2 separate regions of the Homo sapiens genome follow, and region 1 is linked to region 2. The links come from fine-mapping of genetic effects on gene expression. A gene starts in region 2. The other region holds a variant in brackets. All regions are shown on one strand. Distances are from middle to middle. Region 1 has its middle 45 kb from the start of CRACR2A. Region 2 holds the start of PARP11 (poly(ADP-ribose) polymerase family member 11).

What was found. PIP is the estimated chance that this variant, and not a neighbour inherited with it, causes the effect.
Region 1: its variant is the best candidate, but not a certain one, in a credible set for the expression of PARP11 in whole blood (INTERVAL, PIP 0.56).

What each region holds. Positions count from the first base shown.
Region 1 is chr12:3,795,569-3,800,952 of GRCh38, forward strand. No RefSeq gene overlaps it. Among named protein-coding and RNA genes, the nearest start is that of CRACR2A, 45 kb to the left of the region's middle. The variant A/G (reference allele first, on the strand shown) is at 3,262.
Region 2 is chr12:3,870,856-3,876,239 of GRCh38, forward strand. PARP11 (poly(ADP-ribose) polymerase family member 11) reads right to left here and starts at 2,544. Exons shown (of 8, transcript NM_020367.6): 1 at 2,357-2,544. The coding sequence starts at 2,374. PARP11-AS1 (PARP11 antisense RNA 1) reads left to right here. Exons shown (of 2, transcript NR_183432.1): 1 at 1-1,101. RefSeq lists a silencer at 2,212-2,321 and enhancers at 2,993-3,513, 3,514-4,033.

The DNA.
Region 1 (5,384 bases), 75 kb before region 2:
CTCTAGGATCCAAGTCTGATCAAAATTTCCACACCGTGGGTTAATGATCCAAGCTGAGAACAAAATGCAACTGGAGAAGTGGAAAATAAACAGTCAAAGGCACTGTTGACAGAGAGATCCTATTTCCAGTGGTTCAGAGGCCAGAAAGGGAGGGATGAAAATTAACTCTTCAGGTAGATGAAATGCTAGAGTCCCCAGGTTGCAGAGCAGTAACATAAGCTCAGATATCCGGGCCCTAAGTGCCTCTATAGATTCTGGCACCTGACAACCTCCCACCCTAACAGACAACCTGGGGAACTGCCTGCGTTTTGCAGGCACTAAGCAGTAGTTGGGATCGAGGCAGGGAGGACTAAGCAGCTGGGATGCCAGGGCTGATCTTACATGTAGCTGAGGTTTTCAGTTCCTCATACAGCCCAATTTATGTCTCACTCATTCCAGTAGCAGGGCTTGCTATTCTCTTTTTGGATACTAATGTCTTTGGGCTCTCCTCCTTAGAATCTTTTTTAAGTTTTGTATTTTCCTGAGTAAGAAAACCCACTGTGTCTAGGTGCTGGGCTTTGGGGTCAGACAGATGTGAGTTTACATCCTTCTTTGCTATTTAAGCTTCGACAGGTCACAATCTTAGCTTTAGACTGCTTATTTGCAAACTTCGGTTGATGACGCCCAGTCCACTGATGGACACCAGTCCATTATTTCAGTGTTAATTGAAATAATGTATATAATTAGAAATCATTATTCTGTTATTAAGGAACATTCGTGTGTGACTCATAAGACCTATCTTTCTAAAGAAAGGTAAAAATGGTATACTAACAACATAAGTAAACCCAGACTACTAAAATTTCTGAGTTGGAAGAGACTTTGGAGATCACCTGGGATAGAAAGGGTGCTGAATAAAAAAGAGGGTGGAAAAGAGGAAGGTGAGGAATTGAGGTATTTCAAAGACAAATATCATCTTAATTCATTCTCACACATGCAAAAAATCTTTCTTGAACGTCAATTGTGTGCAAGGCACCATGCTAGACATTGTCATTGCCTAAAGATTGCTAGAGTCTAGTAGGGCAGATAAGGTACGAACCCATCTTGTGCTAAGACTTATGAGAGAGTGGTTCTAAGGACAAGCACATGTACTCCTGGAGGGAGATCAAAAAGGTAGTTTCTATGTCACACCTACCCTGGCAGGTTGCCTCATCCATCTGCCAGTCTTTCCTTCATTAAAAGTCCCCAAGAAAAGCAGTTTCATAGCTGTCCCTGGTCACCAATTCCATGCCTCAAACTGTGACAGGCAATTCTTTCTAATGTCTAACTGACACATCTTGTGCCATGGTTTAAATCCAATTCCTCTTGTCTGTTCTCAAAGAAGATGGAGAGCAGCTGGCCCCCAACTTCTGCATAATAACCCTCTCAGGGGTTGGACACTGTCATTAAGTTGCCCTTGAGGTCTGGATTCATTATCCATTGTGGGCTGACTGAAAAAACAAAAGATGCAGACATTGTATTTCATTTTCCCAGCAAATGGGTTCCTGTGGGAATGTGGTGACACAGAGGACCGTGAAGTTGCCTTTGGCCATGGACAAGATGTTGGGGTAGGCAGCTGCAAGGCAGTCAGTGATTTTCTCCCAAGGACAGTAAATAGAGTATGATGCATCCTGGGAACACGACATCACTACCGTCACCCACAGGCGTTCATCCCAAAACTTCAGTTGCAGAGGACAAGAGAAATTTGTGCCCTATCCAGACAGTGATCTTCTTAGGGAGAATCAGGCGGCAAAATGAGGAGTAAAGTGAGAAATAAAGACTGTATTTTAGTTCAGTCCTAACTAATTTTATCTCATTTTGTCAGTTATTTAAAAAGATACACTTATTTATGTATTAATCATACTTTTTATTTTCTAAATTTTGTAGTGCTCTGTTGGCCAGGGACAGACTGGCCCTCCCAGGGCCGGCTAATTCCTAGACAGCAAAGGACTCTGCTGAGGGTGTCTTTCATACGCACACCAAACAATCCAAAGGCCGTATCTCCAACCACAACTTTATCTAACTCTCATACAGCAAGCCAGTATTTCCCCTGACCTAAATCACCCCAGGACCAGGTGTCAAACAACCAGAGACCACCTTTATAATCCAGGGCCTGCTGAAATTACCAGAACTACTATCCAACCCCCAAACTTCCTCATATTTGCCTTTCTTGTCTCATCCATTACTTCCCTGGAAAACCACAATAAATGCTCTGGGCCATGCTTTCCCCTCTCACCTCCTTCTGCCTCCTGACTGACCCTGATACTTCCCCCATGTGGCCCTGCAAGGGCATGGCATGGATCCTTCTCTTAAGTATAAGAAAGAAAACTTCTTTCAAACTCTGTGTCTGTCACCTTATCGTACCTGATTAAAACAAATCCTGAGTATCTTAGCCTGTTTTGTGCTGCTATTAAAAACAAAACAAAACAAACAACAACAACAACAAACCTGACAGTTCTCTCACAGTTCTGGAAGCTGGAAATTCCAAGATCAAGGTGCCAGCATCCGGTAGGGGCCTTCTTGCTGTGTCCTCACATAGCAGAAGGTAGAAGAACAGGAGAGAGCAAACCCACTACCTAGAGTGCTTTTTATAGCAGTATTAATCCTAAACACCTTCCGAAAGGTCCTACCTCCCAACTGTTGTATTGATGATGAAGTTTCCAACATGTGAATTTTGGAGGGCACAGAAACATTCAAACCACAGCACTGGGTAAAAATCTGGAAACAATTAATCACATCTTAAATCATTTAGATAATATGCCTCAAATTGTAGTAATATTAAACCACACAGTACTTAATATTGTTGGGGTAATATTGCCCATTGCTAAGGTAGTAACTTCCAATCTAAGGAGTACTTTGTTATTTGCAAATATTGACCATTGAGCTTCCTTGTATTTTGTTATACTTCTCTCCCAGAAGTTCAACATTTGACAGACATCAGCTTTCAAGAGGTATTCAGTGGTAACTCATTCATCATTTACCTGTCTAATGGTGTTCAGACAGATAAATATTTTCTGTCCTTTAAGAACTCTATGAAAGGAAACTAGATTTTTGTTAAGTACAAACAATACTTACATTGTTATGCAAATATATCACTCTTTTGCTATCATCAAAACAAAAAACATCCATGGACATGCATCTTAATTTCCTTGTCAGAATTTCCATCTTCCTTTTTTTCTTTTCTCTCTTATTTTCCACATCGTGCTGTCAGTACTCCTTGATTTCCATCAGAGGTTCTTTCCATGC[A/G]CTTAACCTTTAAGATTAAAAAGGCCTTTGTTCTAATCGACCTTCACATACAGCAAATCCCATTTTTGTTTGTGTTGTAGCTTGTCTCCTCAGACCAGACTGACATGGGGACCTTCATGTACAGCAAATCTCATTTTGCTGATAAGGAAAGCAAGAGTCTTGGCTAAGTTTCTTGGTCAAAATCATATACCAAGGTACACAATGAATTCAGGACTTTTGACTTTTGGCAACCGATGGGAATCTTGGGCAATAACATTTGTTACAGGCTAAATGCCCCCAAATTCCTATGTTGAAATCTTATCCCCCATGTGACAGTATTTGGAGGTGAAACTTTTGGGAGGTAATCACATCTGCAGGCACCTTGATTTGGGACTTCCCAGCCTCCAGGTCTGTGAGAAATAACTTTCCATTTAAGCTGCCCAGTCTGTGGTATTCTGTTACAGTGGCCCAAACTAGGACAATGTTCTTCCTAAAAAAATATAATACCAAATCTGAATAGAGGTGTGGAGATGGGATGAAATGATCTTTTAAGAAGCCTTTCAGTCTGAATGTATTTTCTAATAATATCCTGCTAAAGAGTAATCTAGTGATTAAATAATATATCCAGGTATGGTTACTGTAACCCAAAATTCAAGTGCATCCCTGGATATTTACTGCAGACCTCTATACTTGCCCAATAGTATAAACACTTTTATGTCCTGTTTGGTAGACCAATTTTTGGACAGCACAAAGGAGAGAGGAATGACTAATAATTAGGTAATAGAATTAAGATAAAAAATTTTTTTTGAAGCTGGGATAACGGGTTAATACCAATAAGATAAAATTTAACAGGGACATTGCTTCTGTTATGTCTGAGTCACACTCCCTTTCCCAGTGAAAAGACTTTTGCAATTTATTACATATGGTTTAAACCCTGCAACTTTCTTAACATTATACCCTAAGCACTTTCTCATGTCACTAAATATTCTTCACAAAGATAATTTTCACAGACACATGATATTCCATCTTGTGTTTATATTTAATATTACCTTATTTTTGGCCAGGTATGTTGCTTCTAATTATTTACACACATGTTAGGCTACAGTAATTATCCTTTTGTATAAAAAATAATTTAACAGGGACAAATGTAAAGGCCTTTGTTTAGGCTCAAAACTTCAATCATATAATTATAGATTCTATTTTTCTGGGCTTCTAGAAATTTTTAGAAAAAAATCTGTGATTTTTTTGTTAGTGACAAGTGCAATATTCCTCAATAGTGCAACCAGTATGAGGTTAATATCAGGAAGACACATTAGTTCCACTGTACTCTGTGATAGTCACATTACAGCTCAAATACAGTATCTGTTTCAGATTTCACCCTTCATAAGCAACATGGAGAGATATTTAAAAGACATCAATACAATTTGACAATTTATCAGACGAGGGATGGCTGAAAGAAGGGAGGGATTTAATACTGAAGAAGAGAAGACATTTGGTTATAAGATCTTAGATTTTAAATACAGGAAGGAATATGTTGGGGAAGCTTATATTTACTCCAATGACTGAGAGCTATATGAGGCAGATTTCAGATGTGGCCTAGAGCAGTTTAAAAAAAAAAAAAAAAACTCCCAAAGCTAGGGACACGATAATGAATTCTAATAGACTACCTTTTTCCCACTGAGGGCTGTAAGATTGGAAGGGCTGGCTAACATCAGAAATGGTACGAGTTAGAAACAGCTGCTTCCTCCTCTTCTGCATATTCTTGGATATTAGCATTCTTCAAGGTTCCATCCTTGGCCTCTCAACACTTTCCACACTTATCCTGGGTGAACTTCTATAGCTTTATAGAAGCCACTTCTATAGCTTTAACAACCACTTATCTAAAGGTGGCTTTTACATCTATATTTCTAGCCATGATTTTTCTCTTGAGCTCCTTGCCATCTAGAGAAGTCTTTTCAAATGTAATATATCAAAATCAGAGTTAATTATCTTCCTGTTGTCATTAGTCAGGACTAATGTGTCAGAAACACTAGCCAGCAAAGGCAAAAAGAGTAATTTATTGGCTTATGTTAACCAAACCATGGCAGGAATTAAGCCAGCTTCAGGATGCTTGAAATCAGAAACCAAAAGGCCACCAGAACTCT
Region 2 (5,384 bases):
ACAAAATGAAGGTTGTTGATGACAGATAGTGAAACTGAATATATAAGCAGAGAGCACATTCTCATTATTCTAAATTATTTTTGCTAAAATCAAATACAAGTAATTACTTTCCTCTAATGCAGCTTGAAGAGAGTATTATACGTATGAATCGAAAATACTAAGATGATGACTATTGTTATATGATGCACAAGAAGGAACCATAATGTGCAACTACCAAATCCAGACCAACAGACTAGTTTCTACTGGATAAAAACTTAACTTAAAAACATAGGGAAATGTACTGATAAACTTTCTAACTTATCTGGAAATATATTCCAGAAATGAGAGGGGAAGAATACTGATTATAGGAAATTATTGCAAATATGGAAATTAGGGGTTATTAAAGTAAATTTATGCAGTTATCTCAGCATAGGAGTAGTTTCTTATGTTTCATACACAATTATGCATTGCATAAAAGCTTTCAGTCAACCATGGATCGCATATACAAGTGGTCCCAAAGATTGTTAACACTTTATTTTACTGTATCTTTTCTATGTTTAGATACATAAATACTTTCCATTGTGTTACGAATGCCTACAGTATTCAGTACAATACTATGCTGTACAGATTTCTAGGTTAAGAGCAATAGGCTATTCCATATAGCCTTAGGTGTGTAGCAGGCTTATGAAAGTACACTCTATGACGTTGGCACAATGAAAAAAATCACCCAGCAATGAACTTCTCAGAACATATCCCCATTGTTAGGAGGCGCACGACTGTATTTAGTCCAACAACTTGCTGAAATGTGATTCTACCATTTTTCCAGTCAACTCCTAAGTTTTAAATACCATACATCTGCCACCTTACCAGGCAGTTTCAACCATAACAACAGAAGAATACTCTTGGCAAATAGATCCCACTCTCTGAGGGTTGTGTTGGGGCTCAGAAAATACTACCCCGAAGTATGACACTTTGGCATGCTGAATACTTTGAACTAAAAGAGATTGGAAGGCCTCAGAAGCAGCCTCGGAAGCAGTCTCTCCCTCTGATCTCCTGCCCTTCTGTCTCCTGCCCATCTTTCGTCCCAGAAGTGAGTCACAGAAACCAGAATTCTTCCCCAAGGTGAGTGATAGAAACTAGGATCCCTCTCCTACAAAGCAAGCCATAAAAACTGGAACTATTAAGCTTTCCCTGCCATTGTCTATAGGAACTGGCCATAAAGAAATTCTCTAATCTACCTTGCCTGATAGTAGGTCGCTAAGACCCTCATTCCAGAAGGGACCTTCCTCCTCCGTAGGAGGAAGAAATGATACACAGAGAGGCCAAGAAGAATCTGAACAAACAGACCTTGCTGGGCTTCCTTCCTCAGTTTATTAACATTAGAGTATATCCTTTGTCCAGTCACATTTTTACACAGTTGTCTATTCTTCATGGGTCCTACGCATAAAAATAGAGATCTCCCTGGTCTCTGAAGTGCCTGGTGGTGTAAAACTTTGATTAGATTTGCTCTGCTTTTACCTTGTTAACCTATCTTCTGTTTTAAGGAGTGGTGGCTGTGATCCTTACAATGGGTGGTGAGGAAAGGTACTAAAGTTTTCGGCCCCTACGTTGCACTTTAAATAAATAAATGTATAAAAGCAAAGTAGACAAAGACACATGAAGTCATAATGAAAATACCAGAGTCAGCCAAGGAAGAAGGCAGACTTGCAGTTGAAATGCTCCAGATCACTTTGTCCACCGAACGAAAACATCTAAGAACATACAGTCCATACTCCAAGTTTTAAACGACTGTCCACCAAGAAGGGAAAAGGAGAACTGATGGCTCCTCTTAGGCCCATTCAAGACAAGGGGGTCCCAATTCCCTTGCTTTAGACTGGTGGGACTGGCAGGTAAACCTGAGGCAAATGACTGACTACAGGTTCCAAGGCCAGTTACTCCAATTAGAAAGCAAAACACAAAGTTTCAAAAAACAGTGAAGGCAGTCGGGAGGCTGAGGCACGACAATCGCTTTAACCCGGGAGACGGAGGTTGCGGTGGGCCGAGATCACGCCACTGCACTCCAGCCTGGACAACAGTGCGAGACTCCGTCTCAAAAACAACAACAACAACAAATGGTGAAGGGATGAGGCTGAAACATCACGGGAAGTAAAATAAATAATTGTAACAAGAAAACAATAAAGCATTGGAGAATCCACCCAGGCACTTCCACTGCTTAAAAAGGTACAGACTACAGAAGCCAAAAGGCCCGGGAACTCCGGTCCCGGAACTCAACACCCAGACTGAAGCGAGCGCGGGGAAGCAGTTCCGGTGACCCCCTCCCGCCCCTCTCTCATCAACCCCGCCCCCTGGGCCCGCCCCGTCCCGCCCGGCTACTCACTGGATTCGCTTCCCACATAACGGTGACAAAATCGAGCGGAGAGAGCCTGTGGGAAGGGGCTAGCCGCGGGGCCTGGGTGTTGGATTTTTTTTTTTCCCGCGGGTCCCCGGGAGCGAAGGGACGGAGATGCAACCTTTACGAAGGCCTTCCTCCTCCCCCTCCCTGTCACAAGCCAGCGTTTACAGACCACCCAACCTCCCGACTTCCGCCCGACGTTGGCCAGTCAGATCTGTCTCCGCCCCACTCCTACAAGCTCGCCCCGCCCCTGCACGCTTATCCATACGCGCGCGGGCGGTCGTCCTGGGCGGGGCTTGCGAGTCTGTGTCTGACGAAGGAGTTTAAAGGGTTTCTGGTCCAACTGTATCACCCAGTGATCTTAAAGCCACGGCTGGCTGTATTTCTTTCCTATGAAACAAATTTTTATTGATCACCGTGTAACGACCAAGAGTCACACAGGCCTGGCAATGGCATTTGGGAGAAACTTCATAATCTTTCAATATCTTCATCCTCAAAATGGAGATGGTAGTAATATCTCCCTATGAGTGAGATTATTGAAAGCATTTAGCACAGTATTTGGCACACAGAGTTCAATAAGTGACGGTTATTTGCTCACAAGGGAACCTTTACATACTATCCCTGCCCTCAAGATTTTATAATCTAGAAAAGAAAGCAAAAAGTAGTTTAGAAAAGTTAAAAAGTGCAATATGATTTATAGGTAATATGGTGAATAGAGAGTGCTATGCGAGCATATTTACCTAGAGTAGAGTGTCAGGAAAGCTCCCTCAAGATGTTTAAAACCATGAGGATGTATTCCTACTGATGTAAAGAGAGCTAACAGAGTGAAATAATCTTCCATGCAACAAAGGATCTACCCCATAGGAAATGAAAATTAAACAGCTCATTATAGATCCTTCTGGACTTTTCTATGCCTCTACACATTGAAAAAAATGTAATCAAAGAATACCTATAGATTTAGAACCTGATTTTTTTTTCACTTTAAAGATTATGTGGCTATCCTTCCATTCCATTAAGTTTAAATCTGTTTCATCATTTTATTTATTTATTTAGGCAGAACCTCGCTCTGTCGCCCAGGCTGGAGCGCAGTGGCGCCATTTTGGCTCACTGCAACCTCCGCCTCCCGAGTTCAAGCGATTCCCGTGCCTCAGGCTCCTGAGTAGCTGGGATTACAGATGTGCGCCACCACGTCCCGCGAATTTTTGTATTTTTAGTAGAGACAGGTTTTCGCCATGTTGGCCAGGCCAGTCTCGAACTCCTGACCCCAGGTGATCCACCTGCCTTGGCCTCCCAAAGTGCTGGGATTACAGGTGTGAGCCATCTTGCACCCGGCCATATTTTAAAGTAGACTCATGGCATTCCATAACTTATGCGTATACTACGTACACACAAATAGACACACACATTTGAAATAATCTACTGAATAGACGTTTGAGTGGTTTTCTATTTTTCACTATCCCAAAAAAATCCTTCAACAGGCATTTCTTCACATTTGTCCATTTACTTCTTGGAATTAATTCCTGGAAATAAAATAGTTTACTAAGAGATTATTTTTGCCAAATGGTTGACCAGTTGCCCCCATGTCATTTAGTGAATATTCTTTCCTCACTACTTTGAAGTGCCACTGTTAATTACAACCTAAATTTGCATATACATATACATAGGTATACATACACGTATATATCTGTTTCTGAACATTCTCCTCTATTAATTATCTGCTTATTCCTAAAATATGCCACAGTTATAATCATTACATATTTAATATATTTGCCTTTTCATAAAGGAACCTCTCCTAATTCTCTTCTTTTTCAAAATTTTCAATATCATGGGTCTTTCCATTCAGAAATACTTGTTTTCTGTATCTTTAGATGCATTAACAATTTTTTTTCAGATCTGCATCAGCATCTGTAAAAAAAAAAAAAAAATCACATAGGTTTGCATAATCCTTGGGAAGTTTGTTCCTAGATATTTTATAGTTTTTTTGTAAGTGAGATATTTCTTATTGCTGTAATTTAGGAAAGCTATTGACTTTTGTTTATTTACCTTGTATCCTACCACACTATGAAAAAATGTCTTGTTAGTTCTAATAGCTTGACAGCTCATCTCTATGAATTTGTACACAGACAATCATTATCACCTGCAAATAATGCGTTTCTTTCTTCCTATTGCATTGGTCAAAACATCAGAAAAATGTTTAAGACTACAGGACAAGATAATGGATATCCAGCTTTAATGCAGTAAGGCAAGCATGTGCCCATTTGGTGCTAGTGCTAGTTGGTATTCTTTTTTTTTTTTTTTGAGCTGGAGTCTCGCTGTGTCGCCCAGGCTGGAATACAGTGGCACAATCTGGACTTACTGCCACCTCTGCCTCCTGGGTTCCAGCAATTCTCCTGCCTCAGCCTCCCGGGTAGCTGGGACTACAGGCACATGCCATCATGCCTGGCTAATTTTGTATTTTTAGAAGAGATGGAGTTTCACCATGTTGGCCAGGTTGGTCTCGAACTCCTGACCTCAGGTGATCCACCCGCCTCAGCCTCCCAAAGTGCTGGGATTACAGACGTGAGCCACTGCGCCTGCTAGTTGGTGTTCTGAAAATACACTATCATCTTTAAAGAAATTTTCTTCTATCCTGTTTTACTACATGCTGTTAAATCAGGAAAGAGTGCAAAATTTTACCAACTGTCTCTTAGCCTCTATCACTATATTTGTTTTTTACTCTGACTCTTTTATATAATGAATTATGCTCATTGATTTCCTAGTGTTCAACACATTCTTACATTTCTGAAATAAACTCTGCTTTGTCATGTTCTATTATTTTTTGATCAAATGAAAGCCATGCTGGGTTTGATTTGTTAATCTTTTATTTAGGATTAAAATGTATTTATAATTAATAAAATTGGTCCATTGTTACTGATTTTTGTGCTTGTCTGTAACAAGTTTTGGTATCAGAGTAATGCTAGCCTTGAAGAATGAACAGTAGCAGTTTAAGTAATTTAGGAACTAGCTCTTCCTT